Linked DNA regions of Homo sapiens: all the other regions are linked to region 1. The links come from fine-mapping of genetic effects on gene expression. A gene starts in region 1. Each other region holds a variant in brackets. All regions are shown on one strand. Distances are between the middles of the regions.

Evidence for each region.
Region 2: its variant is fine-mapped to the expression of CLSTN3 in whole blood (TOPMed, PIP above 0.99).
Region 3: its variant is fine-mapped to the expression of CLSTN3 in whole blood (TOPMed, PIP above 0.99).
Region 4: its variant is fine-mapped to the expression of CLSTN3 in whole blood (INTERVAL, PIP above 0.99).

Annotation. Positions count from the first base shown.
Region 1 is chr12:7,127,449-7,132,805 of GRCh38, reverse strand. It overlaps CLSTN3 (calsyntenin 3), which reads right to left and starts at 2,435. Exons shown (of 18, transcript NM_014718.4): 1 at 2,094-2,435. The coding sequence starts at 2,157. RBP5 (retinol binding protein 5) reads left to right here and starts at 3,917. Exons shown (of 4, transcript NM_031491.4): 1 at 3,917-4,103; 2 at 4,388-4,566. The coding sequence starts at 4,031. RefSeq lists silencers at 1,419-1,488, 2,579-2,678 and an enhancer at 1,636-2,137.
Region 2 is chr12:7,255,201-7,260,557 of GRCh38, reverse strand. No RefSeq gene overlaps it. Among named protein-coding and RNA genes, the nearest start is that of ACSM4, 46 kb to the left of the region's middle. RefSeq lists a silencer at 1,248-1,448. The variant A/G (reference allele first, on the strand shown) is at 2,862.
Region 3 is chr12:7,087,576-7,092,932 of GRCh38, reverse strand. It overlaps C1R (complement C1r), which reads left to right and starts at 488. Exons shown (of 11, transcript NM_001733.7): 1 at 488-546; 2 at 1,253-1,481; 3 at 2,685-2,877; 4 at 3,200-3,346; 5 at 3,444-3,640; 6 at 3,947-4,094; 7 at 4,202-4,323. The coding sequence starts at 545. RefSeq lists an enhancer at 146-440. The variant C/T (reference allele first, on the strand shown) is at 3,230.
Region 4 is chr12:7,068,612-7,073,968 of GRCh38, reverse strand. C1S (complement C1s) reads right to left here. Exons shown (of 12, transcript NM_001734.5): 12 at 2,937-4,114. The coding sequence ends at 3,318. Among named protein-coding and RNA genes, the nearest start is that of C1S, 11 kb to the right of the region's middle. The variant C/T (reference allele first, on the strand shown) is at 2,575.

The DNA.
Region 1 (5,357 bases):
TAGACAGTTCCCATGGAAACAACCTGCCCTGGGGGTGAAGAGGAGGGGATCACTATCTCCATGGGAACCATGGTCAGGAAGTGGAGAATGTTCTTTAGCGATTTCACGTGCTAGAGAATGGAGACAGGGAACTTCAGGGAGCAGTGGTGGGCTGTGAGAAGGCCCTGGGAAAGGGAAGGGATAGATTAAGGGCAGAATTGAAACTAGAAAAAGATCTAGAAGTTTCCTGAGATCCTGATTGCTTATCCTCCTCCCAACTCATTTCAGTCCTGATCCCTTCACTCTGCACTTCTCCCAGCCAAGCCCCAACTTGAGGCCACTCTCCCAGAACACAGGATGGGGAGAAAGGAGAGAAGTGAAGATATATAGGACAGAGGGAGGGGGCAGAGAGGGGCAGGAATGGAGCAGAGGAATCAATGCTGAGCAACTGGACCCAGCAGAGCCGTCATCCTAAGGGATTATCGGGCTGGCCTAGAAACATGACAAATCCCGTCCCTGCTTCCCACCCCCACACCCAAGAGAACACATTCGAAACCGACACATTTCTATGTCCTCCACAAGACCATCAAACCACATTCCCTGAAACCCACTTTTTATACAGAACTCAATCCCAGTTCTTATCTACCCCATCCCTCTTCCCTTCAACCACCAGCCAATTCAGAATGGATGCGGGACTCATCAGACTCCAAATCTCCCCATCTTCTACCAGATTCAGCCTGGTGAGGGGCTGTGGGGAAGCATATTTCCTCCCCTTCCACATCACCCCCCACCCCAGCCTCCACGCTTGCTCTAATCCCATCATCATGCCAACACCCAGGCTCCCAAAGCACAATCATGAGGCAGAGGGAAACTGAGTCACCAAAAGGAACCTCATCCCCAGTATCTCACGGTGAGCAAGAAACCCTGATTTCCATTCTTTCCTCCAACCACACACCAGCAAGCCTTTGGCATGGGAAGGCTTTCTTACTGATGACCACCATAACCCCTTCCTGAATGCTGAGGAGAAAGCCACAAGATGGTGCACAGGAGGCGGTACAGGAAGTGGCAGGAGGCTAGGAGGCGAGGCTGAGGTCAGAGATGCAGGCAAGGAAGAGAGAGCGGTGGAAGGGCAGGGCTGGGCGCCCTCTGCACAGCTCCCCCTCCCACCCTGCTTGTCTTCCCAGGTCTCTGAGCCTCTGTCTCCTCTCCTCCTGGCCCCCTGCGGTCTCTGCGTTTGCTCCCTTTCACTCCTAGGCTCCCGGGCTCCTCCTTGACTCACTCTTTTCCTGATTTTCCTCATTCCTCCCTCTTTTTTCTGCCTCCACCTTTACCCTTTTCCATCCCCTCCTTACCCCCTCCCACGCCTCATCTCCGGTCTTCTCCTTCTCAGCTTTCCCTCTCATACTCATTTAGCGCCCCCCACACACCCACTTCTGCCCTTTCCTGCCAGTCTCCATCCGTTTCCACCTACCTGAGCCCTCTGCCCGCAAGCCCTCCCTCCCGTCCTCCCTCTCCGTCTGTCCGACAGCCCCGCCCAGCTGAATGTATCCGCTGTCTGCCAGAGAGGGCAGCTCTGGTAACCCACAGCCCAGCTGATGCAGGCAAAAGGGTCTGAATGCAGAGGCACACGCAAAAAACATACGTGCTCCGAATTGCTGAACTGCAGCAAATACTTTCTCCCCAGGATGGGATGGAGGCGAAGCAGATGGATCTGCCACACACCCTTAGCATGCGCCAGTGAAAGGGAGAGCCGCGGGGAGAGGCCTATCACCGGCTCGGGGGCAGTCCTTCCCAGACCCGAGGTAGCCACCAGCGTGTAGAAATTAGGGGAAGGGGAGAATAGAGACCCCAGGACGGGAATGGAGACCAAATGGGAGCAAGATGACCAGCAAGAGAAACGCATGGGTAGAGATGGACCAGAAAGGAAGATGTAGCTGGGGGAAGAGAAAGAGAGGAGACGGAGCAGGTCTGAGAACGGATGGGAAGGAGGGTGATCAGAAGAGGGCCAGACACCTGTCAGGTGCCAGGGAGCCTCGACACCTCCTTCCCACCCCCACCCCGCACGGCGCTGCCCGACGCCCCTCTTTCGGTACCCCCACCCCCACCTCACTCACCTTTGTTACAGGAGCAGGACGCGAGCAGAGAGGCCAGCAGAAGGGGCAGCAGCAGGAGGGTCATGGTGCGGCGTGGGGCAGGGCAGGGCCAGGCGTTTGCCTCCCCTGGGAGCCTCCAGCCTGCGGATTCCACCTTGCGGGAGGGATACAGGGGGTCTCCAAGGAGCGGGGTACAGCAGGGCAGGGACGGAAAGGAGCCTGCCGCCCACACTAGTCCATAAAGCGGGCCTGGGCAGATCCCAATCTGGGTAGCTGAGGCGGTGGACTTGCAGCGGCTTCCCGTTTCCCCCAGCCCAGCGTCCTCACTCTCTCACTCCCACCCCAACCCCGCTACTGCAGGATGACGTCAGCACAGCCGGGCAACGATTGATGGGGCCGCCGGCCAATCAGGTGACTGGGAGGGGGGGGGACCAGGTGCTGCAGCGGGGGAGGGAGCCAATGAGACTGGGGCGTCGGGGCTGGAGAGTTTCAAGGCTCCTTCCCCTGGCTGCAATTTTGGGGGAGCCGAGGAACTGCGGGGGCTGGGGAGGAAGCTGGAGAGCCACGGAGGGGGTGGGAAAGAAGAGGGACGTGGGGAGAAAGAAGCCAGAAGCCAGGGGGTGGGGAAGAGAGACGTCAGCGGGACCTGAGGGCGGCCAGGAGGGGTGGCACCGCGTCACCCCGCCCCCCAACTCTGCCATAACCTGTTTCCACAGCCCCTTCCATCCACAGATCCGTGCTGCGTGCCCTCTGGGAAGGGTGAAGTAAAACCCTCAGTCTGAGCCTGAGAAATCCTGGCATTTGTAGCCCAGGGCTGCGAGGAAGCCACAGGGCGGTCCGCAGGGCGGTATCGAGGCTCTGGGACCCAAGGAGGGGCAGGACGTCGTGCACCCCTCGCGCACGCACCTGTCGGGACCGGCCGCCTCCTCCTGCCTACCTGTCCTGCCTCCTTCGCCCCGAATTTCACCTTAAACCATGATGAACCAAGCCCAGTGGATTCTGAAGCCCGGGACGATGGCAGGTTCGAGAGAGAATTGGGCAGCTGGGGGCGGGGCACAATATTATTTAGGCGCCTCCACCCCACCTTCACAGAAATACATCTGGAAAGCATGGGCTGTCCTAGGGCTGGGGACTGGGGGTTACGGTCTCATCGATGACTCAGAGGGAGAGAAAACCCCCTGGGTCCCAAGCCAAAAAGAATAAAATTCTCCAGAATAGCCAACAAACTCCTCTCAGGCTGTCTGTTCCGGACTTTGAACTCAGCACCCCTCGGGCTCCACCTCCCTCCTAATGGCTCTTTAGGACCAAGAGTCTGGAATGCCACTTTGGGGTCCCAGTTGAGCACACTACCTGAGGGAGCTCTGAGAGCCAGGCCTACAGGGTGCTCTTCATGGTGGCAGCTGGCCATCCTCACCCCCTCCCCTCACATCTTCCAACATCACTCAGTCCCAGGATCTCAGGATATTGTTGGAACTCATCTCCACCTCACACAGCCAGACCAGCCTCAGGTGTCTCCCAGGAAAGACTGCCCCTCAGGCCCTGGGACGGTTCCCAAGCCTGCCAGAAATGAGGTGGAGGCCAACACTGACCTTTGGATGGCTGAGTTTTGGATGACTGACAGCCCCAGATCCTGCTCCAGGTTCCTTCCTCAGGAAGGATCCTGCTCCAGGTTCCTTCCTCAGGAAAAGCCAAGGTCAGGCGCAACTTTGCCAAATCCCTGCCCCTCCTTCAGGCTGGAGACACCACCCCCAAACTCACCATGCGGGGAGGGAAGAAGTCTGGTAGGGACTCTTATTGCAACAGGGCCCCAGCCTTATAAAAAGCCCTGGTAACCCGGCCATTACACATCCTGTCTCTGTGTGTGGAGCTGGCTGGAATCTCTCAGCCTCACCTGCCAGACAACACCCCCTCCTTCCTCACCCTGTCTCCTGCATTCTCCTGAAACCTTCATCCACACAATGCCTCCCAACCTCACTGGCTACTACCGCTTTGTCTCGCAGAAGAACATGGAGGACTACCTGCAAGCCCTAAGTAATGGCCTCGCCCTCCCAGACCCCTGTCACTCCCTTTCTCCCCTCTTCCTTCCTGCTTCTTGGTCCCATGGAGAAGAGGGAATGCCCGGGGTTGGACACTGTGGAAAGGCTCAGGCGGCTGGCACCAGACCTGGGATCCATTTCTAACCAGGCATTGGTAGGAGGGGGTGAATCCACAGTCCCAGACCCAAAGAAGGGAAACTCACAGCCCTGAGGGGCTGCTGCAGGCAGAGGAGCTCCTGGCTGGCTAGCAGCACCCCTACTAACAGGCAGCCCCCACAGACATCAGCTTGGCTGTGCGGAAGATCGCGCTGCTGCTGAAGCCGGACAAGGAGATCGAACACCAGGGCAACCACATGACGGTGAGGACGCTCAGCACCTTCCGAAACTACACTGTGCAGTTTGATGTGGGAGTGGAGTTTGAGGAGGACCTCAGGAGCGTGGACGGACGAAAATGCCAGGTACATTTCCCCTGGCTGGGCGGTGGCCGGAAGGAGGCATCACAGGAGACTCCTAACAACATGGGGCAAAACAAAGTGACCTTCCCCAGCCAGAGCAGCGGGGAGGAGGGGAATGGTCACCACAGCAGGGAATGCAGTCCCCAGGATACCAGTCTCCAGAACTAACAGGTCCTGGTGCTCCCTGTCTCTCTCCCACTTCTTCCCTGCCCCCTCTTATCACCAGCCCAAAGGGCAAAGAACAGGCCAACCCAGACCGAAGAGCAAACATTTGCCCACCCTCCAGCCTGTGACACTGTTGGTCACCCAGAGTCCCTTTTACTTTAGCATCAATAACTTCACTCTCCTGCATTTCTTTCTACTTCTTACATATTCCTTCTTAGCCTCCTTTGCAGATCCTAGTCCTCCTATTAATCCTTTAAACTGGAGTTTTCTCCGCAGAGTTTTGTTCTTAATGTCTTCTCCCTTTTGTCTGCCCACTATCCATAGGCTAAATCATCTACACCCATGCCTTCTGCTTCCATCTATAGGCTGCCCTTGGCATGAATTCTCCAGCCAGAGCCATCTCCTGAGCTCCAGGGCAATGTTTTCAACTGCCTACAAAATACAGTTGGCCCTCCATATTCATGGGTTCTGCATCCACAGCTTCAGCAAACTGCAAATGGAAAAATATTTGGGAAAAATAAAAATAAAAAATAACAATACAAAATGATACAAATAAAAAACAATACAGTATAGCAACTATTTACAGAGCATGTACATTGCATTAGGTATTATAAGTAATCTAGAGATGA
Region 2 (5,357 bases), 130 kb before region 1:
TTAATATTTCTCTCCAGATAAAGTTTTTTGTTGTTGTTGTTGTTTTTGTTTGTTTGTTTGTTTGAGATAGGGTCTTTCTCTGTCACCTAGGCTGGAGTGCAGTAGCCCGATCACAGCTCACTTTAGCATTAAACTCCGGAGCTCAAACAATCCTACTGCCTTGGCCTCCAGAGTAGCTGGAACACAGGTGCGTGTCACCATGCCTGGCTAATTTTTTATTTTTTGTAAAGATGATGTATCGCTATGTTGCCCATGCTGGCAGGTTAAGTTCTCAACAGAAAAGTTCACTTTAATTGAGGCTTTTACAGACTTTTCTTCTAGACACCCCTCCACATACTACATTGGCCTCCTGCCCCAACTTCTCTCCTGAAGCTGCCTTTGCCATAATCATAGGGACCCTCTGGGTGCCACATTCAGTTGTTCATTATACATATTGATCTCTTAACAGCATTTGAAACTACTAACCATTCCTTCTTATAACTTTCTCTTTCCTTGGTTTTTATCATATCATTCTCTTCTGCCATTCCTTTTACCTGTCTAACTGTTCCTGCTTCATCTCTTTCTTGGACTCTTCTTCTTAAATATTGGCATTGCAAGGGCTTCACCTTTAGCCTGCTGTTCTTCTGGAACTATATTCTGTGCCTGAGTGACCTCATTCATGTTCATAAATTCAATCACCATTTATACACTGAAGATTTCCCAAGTTCATCTCTCATTTAAACAACTCTTTTGAGAATTAAACCCATTTCTCCAACTATTTCCTGGTATTTCCTGGACATCTTCACCCAAATGTTCAATGAGCGCCTCAAAAAATCAAGAACATAACAATTCTTGAACATATTCCCCTGTTCCCAGAATATAAGTTCAGGAAAATAGGAACTCTTACCAATATTTTTTATTGCTATATCCCTAGAGCTTATAATATTGTCAGACACATATTAAGTGCTCAGTTAATATTGGTTAAATGAATGGAAATTTTCCCCACCAACCTGTTCTTCCCTCTGTATAGCATTAATATTTGCTCAATTATAGCAACATGGTTTCTTGTCATCTCTTTTTTCCTTAATCCTTATATCCCATTGGTTTTCTATGTTCTGTGTATTCAACCTGCTCAATCTAAAGTCCATTTCTTCTCCTACATTCTCACTGATATTTTTCAGGCATTTATAATCTCTCCTTTTGTATCCTCACTGTTCTTATTCATATGATGGGGATAATAATAGGACTTTTCTCATAGGACAGTCATAAGCTTCAGTGAAGTAATATACCCAAACTCTTAGTATGGTGCTGGGATGACTCAGTAAATTTGGCGAGACAGCTGTATTTCTTATGTATCTATATGGATCTCTACAAATACATCTACATGTAGTAAGAGGACAGTCTAGTTAACCTCCATATTTTAGTGTAAGTCCTAACCCAGGAGAGAATGTATTGAACAGATAAATAAATTTGCTTTGTAATGTCAATCAAGTCATGTCCTTGTTGGCCTTCAGATTATTCATTTATTAATTCAGTTAACTAGACTAGCTAGGATCATTTTATAGCATTTTCATATTACAAAGCACGTTCATAGCCATTAACTCATCTTATTTCCATGGCTATTATTCATCTTATTTCCATAGCATTTATTATCATTAGCACCCCAATTTTCAGGTGAAATAACTGAGGCTTAGGATATTAGTTGTCCATAACCCGTCCACTACTTGTTAAAAGCAGAATCAGGATTTGAACCCAGTCTTCTAATGCTAAGTCCTATTGTTCTAAATATTCAGGTGAAAATATATGCATTTTATTTTCGTGTTTCAGGAAGTTGTTTGTGGTCTCTTATTGCACTGTTTTTTCTTGAGTCAGTTGGTGTTGAAGGATGGAACTTAGTGGTAGAAGCCACTCTAGAGCCCTAGTTCCTTTAGCTTACAGAAGAAAAAGAAACAATAAAAATCCATTTCCTTTAGAGGTTGTGAAATCAGAGGAAAAAGCCACCTCATCCCACACCCCAGTTGTAGTCAAGAGCCAGACTTTGCTGAGGCATTTTGGCAGATTGAACCCTTTGTCTGTGTTGACATAGATGCTGAGGGGAGCTTTCTTTATTATGAGATAAAGAGACAGGATCTGAGATTATAAAAGCTTTCACATGTCAGAAAAAGAACCAGTGGGAACAAGTTCATTCATGAAGCTGCCTTAAGGAACTGCAGGTGTTGAGGCACTGGGAGAGACATACACAAATGGATAGATTTCAGGTTTCCAGGACCTCCACCCAGTCACCATCATAAGTACTCATTTGGGGAATCCAGATTGTTCATTGCCTAGCCCAGTGGTTTTTCAAGTATGTTTTGTGGACCTTCAGAGTCAGAAGAATTTGGGGTATTTTCACTTGTTGCCCTATTTACATGATTTTTCTAAATCATTTGAAAGTAAGTTGCAGACATTATTTTCTTTTTTAAATTCTTCAGCATTCATCTTTAAAACATGAGGACATTCTCCCATATAGCCATAATAGGAGAATATTATGACCATCGAAGACATTCATAATTCCTAAATATCATTTATAACCATTCCACACTAAAAATTCCTCAATGGTCCCAAAATGTCTTTTATAGCTTTTTTAAAAGTCCAGGATTCAAGCACGTCTCCTGTAATGTAGAAGAATTCTCTTGCTTTTTTTACCCATGACATTGTCTTGAGAAGAATCCAGATCAGTTGTTGTCTTGATGAATATCTCACATACTGCCTGTGTATTTTTGTGTCCTTGTGGTCTCAATTAACTTGTTCAGGGAAACTGGCAGTCTACTACGCTGCTGAGAGTATAAATTGAGGTCATCTTCCTGGAGGGAAATGGGTAATATATTTTAAAACTTTCACAG[A/G]CTTTAAATTAAGCTGGAGCCCGATTAGATTCAGGATAAACACTTCTAGCAGGACATTTCATAAATAATCCATGTATAACGCACTGCATCATCTTACTAGGCACATGATGTCAGATTGTCCCACTATTGATGATGTTAAATTTGTTCACTTGGTTCAGATGGTGTCAGCCACACTTTGCAAGTGTAACTTTCACCTAGAGGACATAGCATCCAGTTATGATCCTTATCTAAATCAATCATTGGAGATTGCAAAATGTTGATTTCCAAATTCTGTTATTCTTTCTACTTTTACTAACCAGAGTTTTCCTCAAAAAGGAATTTTTCTCCCTCCACCCTTTCATCCCCCAACCCACCCTGAGCATCATGGTAGACTCGGAATTTTAAAGATTCTATGGTTTTTTTTTAACCATTGCCTTGATTATATTCCTTTTTCTTTCTTTTTTTTAATTATACTTTAAGTTTCAGGGTACATGTGCACATGGTGCAGGTTAGTTACATACGTATACATGTGCCATGCTGGTGCGCTGCACCCACTAACTCGTCATCTAGCATTAGGTATATCTCCCAATGCTATCCCTCCCCGTTCCCCCAACCCCACCACAGTCCCCAGAGTGTGATATTCCCCATCCTGTGTCCATGTGATCTCATTGTTCAATTCCCACCTATAAGTGAGAATATGCGGTGTTTGGTTTTTTGTTCTTGCTATAGTTTACGGAGAATGATGATTTCCAATTTCATCCATGTCCCTACAAAGGACATGAACTTATCATTTTTTATGGCTGCATAGTATTCCATGGTGTATATGTGCCACATTTTCTTAATCCAGTCTATCGTTGTTGGACATTTGGGTTGGTTGCAAGTCTTTGCTATTGTGAATAGTGCCGCAATAAACTTACGTGTGCATGTGTCTTTATAGCAGCATGATTTATAGTCCTTTGGGAATATACCCAGTAATGGGATGGCTGGGTCAAATGGTATTTCTAGTTCTAGATCCCTGAGGAATCGCCACACTGACTTCCACAATGGCTGAACTAGTTTACAGTCCCACCAACAGTGTAAAAGTGTTCCTATTTCTCCACATTCTCTCCAGCACCTGTTGCTTCCTGACTTTTTAATGATTGCCATTCTAACTGGTGTGAGATGGTATCTCATTGTGGTTTTGATTTGCATTCTCTGATGGCCAGTGATGATGAGCATTTTTTCATGTGTCTTTTGGCTGCATAAATATCCTCTTTTGAGAAGTGTCTGTTCATATCCTTTGCCCACTTTTTGATGGGTTTTTTTTTTCTTGTAAATTTGTTTGAGTTCATTCTAGATTCTGGATATTGGCCCTTTGTCAGATGAGTAGGTTGCGAAAATTTTCTCCCATTTTGTAGGTTGCATGTTCACTCTGATGGTAGTTTCTTTTGCTGTGCAGAAGCTGTTTAATTTAATTAGATCCCATTTGTCAATTTTGTCTTTAGTTGCCATTGCTTTTGGTGTTTTAGACATGAAGTCCTTGCCCATACCTATGTCCTGAATGGTAATGCCTAGGTTTTCTTTTAGAGTTTTTATGGGTTTAGGTCTAACGTTTAAGTCTTTAATCCATCTTGAATTAATTTTTGTATAAGGTGTAAGGAAGGGATCCAGTTTCAGCTTTCTACATATGGCTAGCCAGTTTTTCCAGCACCATTTATTAAATAGGGAATCCTTTCCCCATTGCTTGTTTTTCTCAGGTTTGTCAAAGATCAGATGGTTGTAGATATGCAGCGTTATTTCTGAGGGCTCTGTTCTATTCCATTGATGTATATCTCTGTTTTGGTACCAGTACCATGCTGTTTTGGTTACCGTAGCCTTGTAGTATAGTTTGAAGTCAGGTAGCGTGATGCCTCCAGCTTTGTTCTTTTGGCTTAGGATTGACTTGGCGATGTGGGCTCTTTTTTGGTTCCATATGAACTTTAAAGTATTTTTTTCCAATTCTGTGAAGAAAGTCATTGGTAGCTTGAGGAGGATGGCATTGAATCTATAAATTACCTTGGGCAGTATGGCCATTTTCACAATATTGATTCTTCCTACCCATGAGCATGGAATGTTCTTCCATTTGTTTGTATCCTCTTTTATTACACTGAGCAGTGGTTTGTAGTTCTCCCTGAAGAGGTCCTTCACATCCCTTGTAAGTTGGATTCCTAGGTATTTTATTCTCTTTGAAGCAATTGTGAATGGGAGTTCACTCATGATTTGGCTCTCTGTTTGTCTGTTATTGGTGTATAAGAATGCTTGTGATTTTTATACATTGATTTTGTATCCTGAGACTTTGCTGAAGTTGCTTATCAGCTTAAGGAGATTTTGGGCTGAGACAGTGGGGTTTTCTAGATATATAATCATGTCGTCTGCAAACAGGAACAATTTGACTTCCTCTTTTCCTAATTGAATACCCTTTATTTCCTTCTCCTGCCTAATTGCCCTGGCCAGAACTTCCAACACTACGTTGAATAGGAGTGGTGAGAGAGGGCATCC
Region 3 (5,357 bases), 40 kb after region 1:
CAGTGTTCCTATCATTACGTCCTGGGCATTGAAACCCGGGCCATTCTTGGACCAGGGCTGTGGGCTGAATGAGGGCAGGAAGAACAGGGTCAATGGGAAAGGACAGCCCAGAAAAGAGAATTCACCACCACCTGTGGTCTCCCACTGCTTTGGTAGGAACCTTGTAAACACAGCAGCAGCCCCCAGGAAAGTCTTGGAAGAAGGGAGAAGCTGATCAGATTTAGAGACTGAGACATCTGGGCCTCCAACCCAAGGCTCCCCGGGCCCTAAAAAGCCAGACTCCCGTCTCCTTAGCCCTTTCCCTCACCGACCAGCAGGTGGCACCACAAACAGGGATTTCAAAACCAAAACTAAATTAAAGTGGAAACTCAGATCTTTTGTTTATGCAAATAGTTCATTCCCTCCAACATTCCTCCGGGAATGGTCCCCCCTCCACTCCACAGAAAACCCTCCCCTCCCTGCTGTGCATGACGCGGGCTCCCTCTGCACACAGTGCACGAAGACGCTGTCGGGAGAGCCCAGGATTCAACACGGGCCTTGAGAAATGTGAGTAAGGGTGATGGGCAACCAGGTGGGAGGGAGAAGCCAGGGGAGAAGCCAGGGCATGGGAGGCAATTCAGGGAGACAGGAACACCCTTCTCTCTTCACACACCTCATCAGTTCCACTGTGCACACGCGTGGACACACACAACACACGCCCCATCCCTCCTCCTAGGGATCAGAGGAGACTTCATACATAGATGCTCATGCCATGGTCCTTTCTTCCCTCTGGGCTCTTGGCAGGGAGCAGCGAGAGGAGGGGACCCCTTGCCCAGGACGGGACACTCTGTGCCTGTGTCCCCCACTCCACAGATGGTTTCTCCCAGACGCTCTTGCTGAACCTGTGGGAGCCCTTTCAGAGACCCACGGGTGGAAACCCTCACCCTCCATTAACTGGTCCCAAGCCAGTCCTATTCCTGGAAGGGGAGGGGAGGGACGCGTCCGGGCAGGGGAGGAGGCTGGAAAGGGAGTGTGAGGGGAGTGTGGTGGCCTCTGGACTGGACACTGCCCTGGAGAGTGACCCGATGCAGCAGCTGCACAGGCCATCCTCCCCACCCACGCACCCCTGCTGAGAACATGTCTGTGAGGTTCAGGGTGGGCAGAGAGGAGAATGCCCAGTGGTATGGCCGTCTCATCCCCTGCCACAGCCACTGCCCACATGGCAAGAGTGCTGAACCCCTCCAGCTCCAGATACTCTCTTTTGTTTTGGCAGGTGGCTCTTGTACCTCCTGGTGCCGGCCCTGTTCTGCAGGGCAGGAGGCTCCATTCCCATCCCTCAGAAGTTATTTGGGGAGGTGACTTCCCCTCTGTTCCCCAAGCCTTACCCCAACAACTTTGAAACAACCACTGTGATCACAGTCCCCACGGGATACAGGGTGAAGCTCGTCTTCCAGCAGTTTGACCTGGAGCCTTCTGAAGGCTGCTTCTATGATTATGTCAAGGTAGGGGCAGGATGGGCGGGCAGAGGGGAGACAAAACTGGGCCCTCTGGGATCTGGGATCTGTATGGCATGCACACCCCCAGACACAGCCCAGCCCCACAAGAGCTGATGGCCAACGGCCTCTCTGAGAGCCCGGGGATGCCCTGGATGGGCGCTCACTGGTGTAGAGGCCCTCGGTGAGCACTGAGGGGAGAAGCACAGAGAAGGAAGGGGACAGGACCCACTCAGGAAATTCAACATCCACTGAGTCAGGAAAACCTTCCCCATCTGCTGTCTAGCTGAGAGTCTTTGGGAAACCACTGTGCCTCAGCTTCCCTGTCTCCAAGGAAATGATTGACATGGCTGCCTGCTTCAACAGGAACACAGGGACATGAGGAGGAGAAATGTGGGCTCTGGCAGCACAGGAATAGCCTTCAGCAAGGACAGTGTGCTCAGAACCCTCACCTCTGTGGCAACCAAGGGTACCTTCCCAGGCCTGTCTTTCTCTATCCAGTAAAAATGAGATTCAGGGCTCAAGCAGAGCCTGCGAAGGTCCAACAACTACCATTCCCAGGAGACCCCTGGAGATTATGCGTGAATTACATGACAATGGCACGTCTTACCGGCTCAGAAGACTTGGCGAGTGTGCAGTGTTGGGGGAGGGCGTTTGCTGGCAGAGTCAAGGAGAGGTTGAGGAGGCTGTGAGGAGGAAGGAAGAGGGACGAGGCAGTGCCTGCTGACACTGAGATGGGTGGGCTTCAGGGCTCATGTTCCGCCGAGGGCATCAGGAGGCACTCGAGGTGTGAATGGTTTGATTAGGCTGAGGTGGAATCTGAAGACAGAAAATAAAGCGGAGCTGTCTGAGCTCTGGGAATGAGGGGCAGGTAAAGGCTGGGTACAGACAACCAGGACCCCAGGGGAACAGGCCATAGGAGGTGGTGGGGATGGAGAAGGACCTGAAACCTGCCAGAGGAGCAGAAAACAGGGAAAGGGTGAGGTACCCAGTCCAGGACAACACGCAAAGAGTGAGTCAGTGGGAGACTCAGGGAACAGCTGAAAGTCACATGGGGAAGTTTGCAGCAGCTGAGCCCAGCAGGTAGTGACCAGCCAGAGCCATTGTGGTGCATGATGCACTCTGGGCGAGACAAGGAGGACCATCACTGAGCCACCACGTGCGCCACTCCGCAACAGATCTTCTTCCTACCCCCTGTCCTTCTTCCACCAGATCTCTGCTGATAAGAAAAGCCTGGGGAGGTTCTGTGGGCAACTGGGTTCTCCACTGGGCAACCCCCCGGGAAAGAAGGAATTTATGTCCCAAGGGAACAAGATGCTGCTGACCTTCCACACAGACTTCTCCAACGAGGAGAATGGGACCATCATGTTCTACAAGGGCTTCCTGGCCTACTACCAAGCTGTGGGTGAGTAGCCCCCCAGGGATCCCTTTTCTCTGACCTCAGCCATATTGAATGGGGGGCCAAGAAAGGGAATCTTGAATGCAAAGAAGCCGAAAGCCTGGCTTTCCTTGTTCCTCCCCTCGAGAGAGCTTTTCCTAACGAGGCCTGTCAACCTGGGCTCTGTCCCCATGGAGCAGTCCCCAGAGAGCATTGGAGAGGCCTGGAGGTCCAGGTGGCCTAAAGATGCCTTTGTCTTTAGGTCTCTGGTGAGTGACCTCCCTAAGATCAGAGCCACTACTCAGGTCTCCCAGCAGAAGCTTAACCCTCCTTCCTGAATGCCTTCCAGACCTTGATGAATGTGCTTCCCGGAGCAAAT[C/T]AGGGGAGGAGGATCCCCAGCCCCAGTGCCAGCACCTGTGTCACAACTACGTTGGAGGCTACTTCTGTTCCTGCCGTCCAGGCTATGAGCTTCAGGAAGACAGGCATTCCTGCCAGGGTGAGCCAGAGTGGTGTAGCAGAGGGGAAGGGGTTGAGCCAGGGCTTGCTGGGCCAGCTGGAGTCCCCCGTAATGCCCTGTGGCTCTGCTCTCACAGCTGAGTGCAGCAGCGAGCTGTACACGGAGGCATCAGGCTACATCTCCAGCCTGGAGTACCCTCGGTCCTACCCCCCTGACCTGCGCTGCAACTACAGCATCCGGGTGGAGCGGGGCCTCACCCTGCACCTCAAGTTCCTGGAGCCTTTTGATATTGATGACCACCAGCAAGTACACTGCCCCTATGACCAGCTACAGGTACAGCCGTCCTACCCCTGAAAGACCCCTTCCTCCCCTTCTGTCTGCACTTGGCTCCTCTTGTCCCAACTTCCTCCTGGATCCCCTGGCCAGCTGGGGCAGGAACGGCCAACATCACCCATGGGCTGGGTAAGTTCCCACACAACTAGAATTGGGTCATGGGGATCCCTTTTCACCTTCCCCTGAAAACACACATAAGGCAGGATTTCATCACCACCACCACCACCCTGGCCACCAGGCTACTACCCAGTTGGCCCTGTGTAAAAACGTCCAAGCTGAAAAAAAAAAACCCTCCTCCCCTACTAGATCTATGCCAACGGGAAGAACATTGGCGAGTTCTGTGGGAAGCAAAGGCCCCCCGACCTCGACACCAGCAGCAATGCTGTGGATCTGCTGTTCTTCACAGATGAGTCGGGGGACAGCCGGGGCTGGAAGCTGCGCTACACCACCGAGAGTAAGGCTCCCTGCAGGCCTCCCTCGATGGCCAGCAATGGGGAAAAGGGGGGAAGAAGGAAGGACAAGTGGCTCTGAAATAAATATGCCCCCTGGTCTCCCCAACAGTCATCAAGTGCCCCCAGCCCAAGACCCTAGACGAGTTCACCATCATCCAGAACCTGCAGCCTCAGTACCAGTTCCGTGACTACTTCATTGCTACCTGCAAGCAAGGCTACCAGCTCATAGAGGTAAGAGCCCAGGGCTGAGGGGAGAGAGCCGGCCCAGCACCCCAGGAGGAATTCAGGTGGTGGGTTCACAGAGGATTTAGTCTCACCCCAGCTGGAGTCGTAGACGTTTCAGCTGGAAGAGTCTCCTGGTCCACCAGCTCTCAAACTTGCTGCACACTTAAAACAGAGAGTTTAAAATCCTGGAAGATTGCTTGAGCCCATTCATTCAAGGCCCCTGTGAATAGCCACTGCACTCCAGCCTGAGCAATATAGCAAGACTCTGTCTCTGAAAAATAAAAATAAGCAAATAAATACTGAAGATGAGGGCCCCCAACAGAGACTCTGATTCCATTGATCTAGAGTAGAGCCTGAACATCAAGACTATTTAAAGCTACCCAGGTGATTCTAATGCACAGCCAAGTTTAAGAACTATTGCCCTAGTCCAATAACTCAAGAGAGCTGAAGGAACTGAAAAGGCAGGGTGGAGATGTAGTGACTCGTCAACATCACGTAGCGATTGTGTACGGCAGGGACTAGGACGCCAATCTCCTGCCTCCTGCTCCGGGGCTCTTTTACACATGTTGGTGGTCTCCCCCTGCGCCCACCGTCCTGTCCTCGGCTCTGCAGATTCAGGAGGGAATATGGTTTTATCCATTGATCAATCTCACAAAAGCTGGTAAACTAAAAATCTCTGTCTCTGGACAGAGACCCAAGACTGGACATCCCATCGTTGTTCAACAGGTCCACATGGAACACTTAATCAGAATCAAAGAAGAGACCTAGGATATGTCCTTAAGTCACAGTTAATTCATTTAATGCACACTTTAAGTGTCTACTGTCAGGCACTGTCCTAGATGTGGGAGGTTCAGTAAAAAGAAACCCACATAGTCACACAGCCTTTGTGGAGCTCACATTTGAATGTTGCATCAAGTCGAGTTCACCTGATGCATTGTTCTTTACTCCAAGGTGCTTCCAGCTCCATCAGGAGGATTGGGTGGGTGTCCTGGGTCCAGAAGAATGGAGACTACCAACCTCTTTGCTCCTATTACAACCCT
Region 4 (5,357 bases), 59 kb after region 1:
TTCCTCTTAGGACAAATGAGAGAAGCTGGATCTTTCCAATGTGTCTTTTTATGATTGTAAGAGAAAATAAAAAAGGATGTGAGTACAAAACGTAGCAAGAGGGAAATCTTGGTAGTGATGGAATTGTTTCGTATCTTGACTGCAGAGGTGCTCACATGAGTCTCCAATGTAGTAAAATAACACAAAACTGCCCTTGCACATTGTACCAACATGAGTTTCCTGGTTTAGATATTGTACTGTAGTTACCTAAGATGTAGCCATTAGGGGAAATAGCGCCTCTCTGTACTAACTTTGCAACTTCTTGTGAATATGTCAAAAGAAAAAGGGTTTTGTTAAATCATTATTTTAAAAACCATGGCAGAGTTTGTGGATCTGATCAAGATTAAATAAAGCTGTGTTGTGTCCGTGTGTGTGTGTGTGTGTGTGTGTGTGTGTGTGTGTGTGTGTGTGAGACGGAATCTCACTCTGCTGCCCAGGCTGGAATGCAGTGGTGCCATCTCGGCTCACTGCAATACCAGGTTCAAGCGATTCTCCTGCCTCAGCCTCCCGAGTAGCTGGGATTACAAGCACCTGCCACCACACCTGGCTAATTTTTGTATTTTTAGTAGAGACAAGGTTTCACTGTGTTGGTCAGGCTGCTCTCAAACTCCTGACCTCATGTGATCCATCCTCCCTGGCCTCCCAAAGTGCTGGGATTACAGGTGTGAGTCACCACGCCTCACATCATATTTTCAATTTTTAAAATAATAACCAATATGCAGGAAAAAAGTCACATTTCCACTGAATATGTTTCTGATTCTAGCAGTCACTGTAAAGGAAACTTTAGAGTCCCAGGATCCCTTCTAGCCCCTTCTGGGCTGGTCCAGTTTCAAGTAGGTTCAAGCCCTCTTGACCACCGGACATTGTCTTTCCTCCCTGGCATGAGTTGCTGACCCACCAGTCCATTTTCTTCTGACCAAAGAAAAGTGACAATTCACCTTCTTCAAAAAGCTAACTCTTTTCCTGAGTTTCAGATGAAGCGGACATATGTTCCCAAGTAACTTGCAAGGTACTACGATGGATACCCTTTAAACACAATGAATGACTTTCTAGCCCCTCTAGGACCTGATGACAAGCTCTTCCCAGCTCTGAAGTCTCTGATCATGATTCATTTAGGTCTTCTCCCTGCCATTCACCCAGAGAAATGACCTTGCAGCACAGTCAACGATGCAAAGCCCATTCCCGTCATGCCGTACAAGGTGGCAGCAAAGAGGGAAATTCTTCACCAATACCTCAGCCCATCAGCAAGGGCAGAACCCAAATAGACTGGTGATTCTCCGAGAGGGATGAACTTCCTTTTTCTGTTACTTGTCAGATTCCAGGTTAATTTTTTGCTATTGCCCCAAGTATAAAAAAAGAAGAACAATATCCCTTTCACAGACCATGTTTCTAAATCTTAATATTCCTCCAATGCCTTTTTATCTCTAGAAGAATCCTCCTCTCACGGAAACACTCTCACCCAGGGCACACTGTCAACTCCATTGCTCCTGCAATGACAGGAAGGGTGAGGAGGTGGCTATGAGGCATACAGTTCAGGAGTGACACAGTGACTTTATGCTGCTTGGTTGACCATATAATCCTCCCAGGGACTCCCTGTTGTAATTCCCTTCAATTCTTCAGGCCCTTCAATTAGAGTTCCTCTGGTTACCTCATCACGTTTACCCTGCGGTCTAAGGTCAACTGTTGAATTTAGCCCTCTTGGTCTATGGAATATCAAAGTCCATTCTTGATGGGCCCAAACCAACCTTTTTTGGCTTCTAGTAAAAACTGCCCTCCTGAAAGCCACGTGTCACATCAAATAGGTCAGATTCCCCCTCAGCTCTTCCTCTCAGACCTCCGCTTTCCTAAGACGCCCTGTTAGGGCAACCGCTGTCCTAAGATAGTTGTCCTGTCCTCAGTTTTTAAAATGCTAAGTCTCTATTCTGTAGTCATTTCTCATCACTAATCATTCTTTTGGAAGAGGAATCTTTTCTTTTCCTTCCCCTAGAAAATAGAAGGGAGAGTTTTGGGGTCCATCCTTACCGAGATTTTCTGCTATGTCATCTTGGTACAGAGTTCAGTCTAATGAAAACATTGTCACAAATTGATTAAAACCACCAGGAAAGCAGACAAGAGCATGCTCAATTTCTTTAGTTTTTCTTTTTTGTTGTCATAATATTGCATGATACAATGAGTATTAGAGGAAAATTAACTTTCCGTTCACATATTGAAACAATTTCTACTTAAAGAAGATCTTAAACAGCCAACTCAAACTATTGTACATGGATTTCTGAATGAGGTGGGGTTTTTTTATTTTGCTTTGTTCCAGATAATGTCTCACTCTGGTTGCCCAGGCTGGAGTACAGTGGCATGATCACTGCAACCTTGACCTCCTGGGCTCAAGCGATCCTCCCAACTCAGCCTCCTGAGTAGCTGGGACTAAGGCACGCACCATCATGCCTAGCTAATTTTTATTTTTTATTTTTGTAGAGACAGGGTCTCCCTATGTTGCTCACACTGGTCTTGAATCCCTGGGCTCAAGCAATCCTCCCACCC[C/T]TGCCTCCCAAAGTGTTGGGATCACAGGTGTGAGCCACGCACCACATGACATTTAATGAGCTTCTTTTTTTTCTTATTTTTCTTTTCTTCTTTTTTTTTTTTTTTTTTTTTTGGCCAGGTAAATATTAATGAGTTTCAAAAGCAGAATGTGATGCCTTACACTGGCGATCTTCATACTAACCCACAATATTCAGTAAATCTCATTTGGAAGAGAGAAGAAAAGCTGAATTCCCTGTTTTCGTGACAATTAAATTAAATATTAGTTGCTGGATGCCCAATTTCAGTGACATAACAGCCTTCTCATCCCATTCCCCTTCTATAATTCTGAGGGTTTGGTGTGGAATGAGGTAAGTCACACAAAATTTGCTTATAAACATCCTTTATTGTACATAGACAGTGGATACTGAGAATGATCAAGTAAATGGAATTTTGAACAGGTAAAGAGGAAACAAAGAATTAAGGTATCCCTGTGGAATAGTGCAAGAAAGGAGTGCCCCACCCATAGTGTTATCTACAATAGGTACTCCGGGGAAAGGACCCCAAGGAGTCAGACCACAAATGTATGACCAGCACAATTCTATGATCAAACTCTACCTCTAGCAAGGCGTCTCAACAATCAAGTTCTATTTAAATCATTCGCTCGTGTCTTCTTTCAGTCATGATGAAATAATGAGAATATCATAAGGAACAGAAGGTAATGCATTGGTCACCACCCTTGGAGAGGCTGGTGGGATGTATCTGGATTAGTCCTCACGGGGGGTGCTATTTTCCTGCATAGTCTTCATTATCCAGTCAACATAGTTCTTTACCCGTGTGTAGAGCCCATAGGTCCCACACTGGGGCCCCCAGGACACCAGGCCAGCTGCGTAGAATTTGGTCTTGTCATTGGGATCCTGTACAGCAAAGGCCCCACCACTGTCCCCTTTACAGCTATCCATGCCCTTCTCTCCTCCAGCACAGATCATGTTAGGAGTGAAAACATAGGCCTCTGCATCTGCTGTGGGTTTCTCCACTTTCACTTCTTTGCATTTTCTTAAAGGAGCTACAGGTAACCTTGCCGCCTTGAGGCGAACAGCACGATCTCTCTTCTCTGTTCGGCCCCAGCCTGAGATCAGTCCCAGGTCCCCATCCATGAGGTTGTAGTCGGAAGAGGTGCCTGGTAGGCAGATGGGAGAGACGGTGGGTCCCATTTTCACTGGGTCTTTCAGCCGCACCAGTGCAATGTCATTATCAAAATTGGTTCGTCCTTCTGGGACTTCCAGCAGCTTCCATCCCGGATGAATAAACACATGCTCAGGAGTGAGCATCTTGGATTTTGCCAGCCGTGAGGTCTGCACTGAGGTGGACCCAACATACATTGTTGGCTCCCTGTTTCCCTCCACAACATGAGCAGCCGTCAGCACCCAGTACTCATTAATGAGCGCTCCACCAGCCCATGGGTTGTCAAAGAAGACTTGCCAGGGGAAGTTTTTAATATCTGCATCGGATCCTCCAATTATCCTCTGTTTTTCTTCAAAGGGTTCTCTGGGGACTCCACAGACTAGGAAGGAATAAAACAACACAGGGAAGGAGGAAGAAATGATGCTGGCTTCCTGCAAATCCTCCAACCACTCACATAATGTTACCTGCTAGGTTGCAGGATTCTCTAGTACAAAATAGTCAACCCTATTTGGTCAACAATCTCAATACCTGACCCACTCTGGCCTTACCTAAACATCCCGCTTTGCCGATGTCATAAGCTGGCTCATGGGAGAGCTCAGTTAAACGGAGGCAGTGTGTGAATCACTGAGTCCAGATGCACTAATGCCTCACACTATCCACAGTGCGACCCACAGCCCCCCTGGAGGCAGGGGTCCCCTTTGCACCTCCCAACTCGGCACATGAGGCCGGTGCCCAATCAAGAGCCAGTGCTGGAAACCCTTTTCTCACACAGATGGTGGAGGAGGAAAGATTTCTGCCTTCTTCAGATGCCCAGATCAAACTTTAATCACCTTCTTTACTGGAGTCCTAGTTGCACCTGAGTCCCTCCTAGTAAACCACAGGTCAGCCTAGGAAGTAGAGAGGGGTCCCTTCTTTGGCCCTGACCTCTCACTCCCAGTGACTGGTGCCATTACCATTCAGTTATACTAATAACTGAATTCAAGTGAAGCTGCTTACTTAAATCCCTTACTAGACAGCCTGGAGGGACTCCAAGTTGAGCACAATGGGCTGTGAACTTAGACAGACCTGGGCTCAAAGCCTGCCTTTGCCACTTGCTAACTCTGTGAACTTGCACCCCACCCATTCACATTTGACATTGGTCAGATAAGACCAATGACACCTAGCTCACAGGGCTGTTATACGGACACGAATGAGATAATAAATGCAACAAATCAGCTCAGTCTTCAGCTTTCAGTACCACCCAGGATGGTTATTATCCTATTGGATTTGCCTCAGCCTTCTGCTACCCAACTCTTATCTTCCTCATTCTTTGAATTCCTCTATATCTTGCTGCCCTATAAACTTTTAATATAATAACTAGGCTATTTAGCTAGACTTGTTTCTGAGTGTTGATTACTCACACACTCTCAGCTTTCAGGCCCTGTTTTTAGCAGTTCTGTATCTTCTCACTGCAGCTACATTACCAGACACCAACTGTCGCTGGCTGACGTTTCTATTTCCTTCCAGTTGGCCTGGCTTCAGTGCGGCTGAGGAGGTTCCCCACGGCCCTGGCAGCCCACGGCACAGTGATACTGCCACCTCACTGAGCTGGACTCTGGCAGGTCACTGTTCAGTCCTTTCCC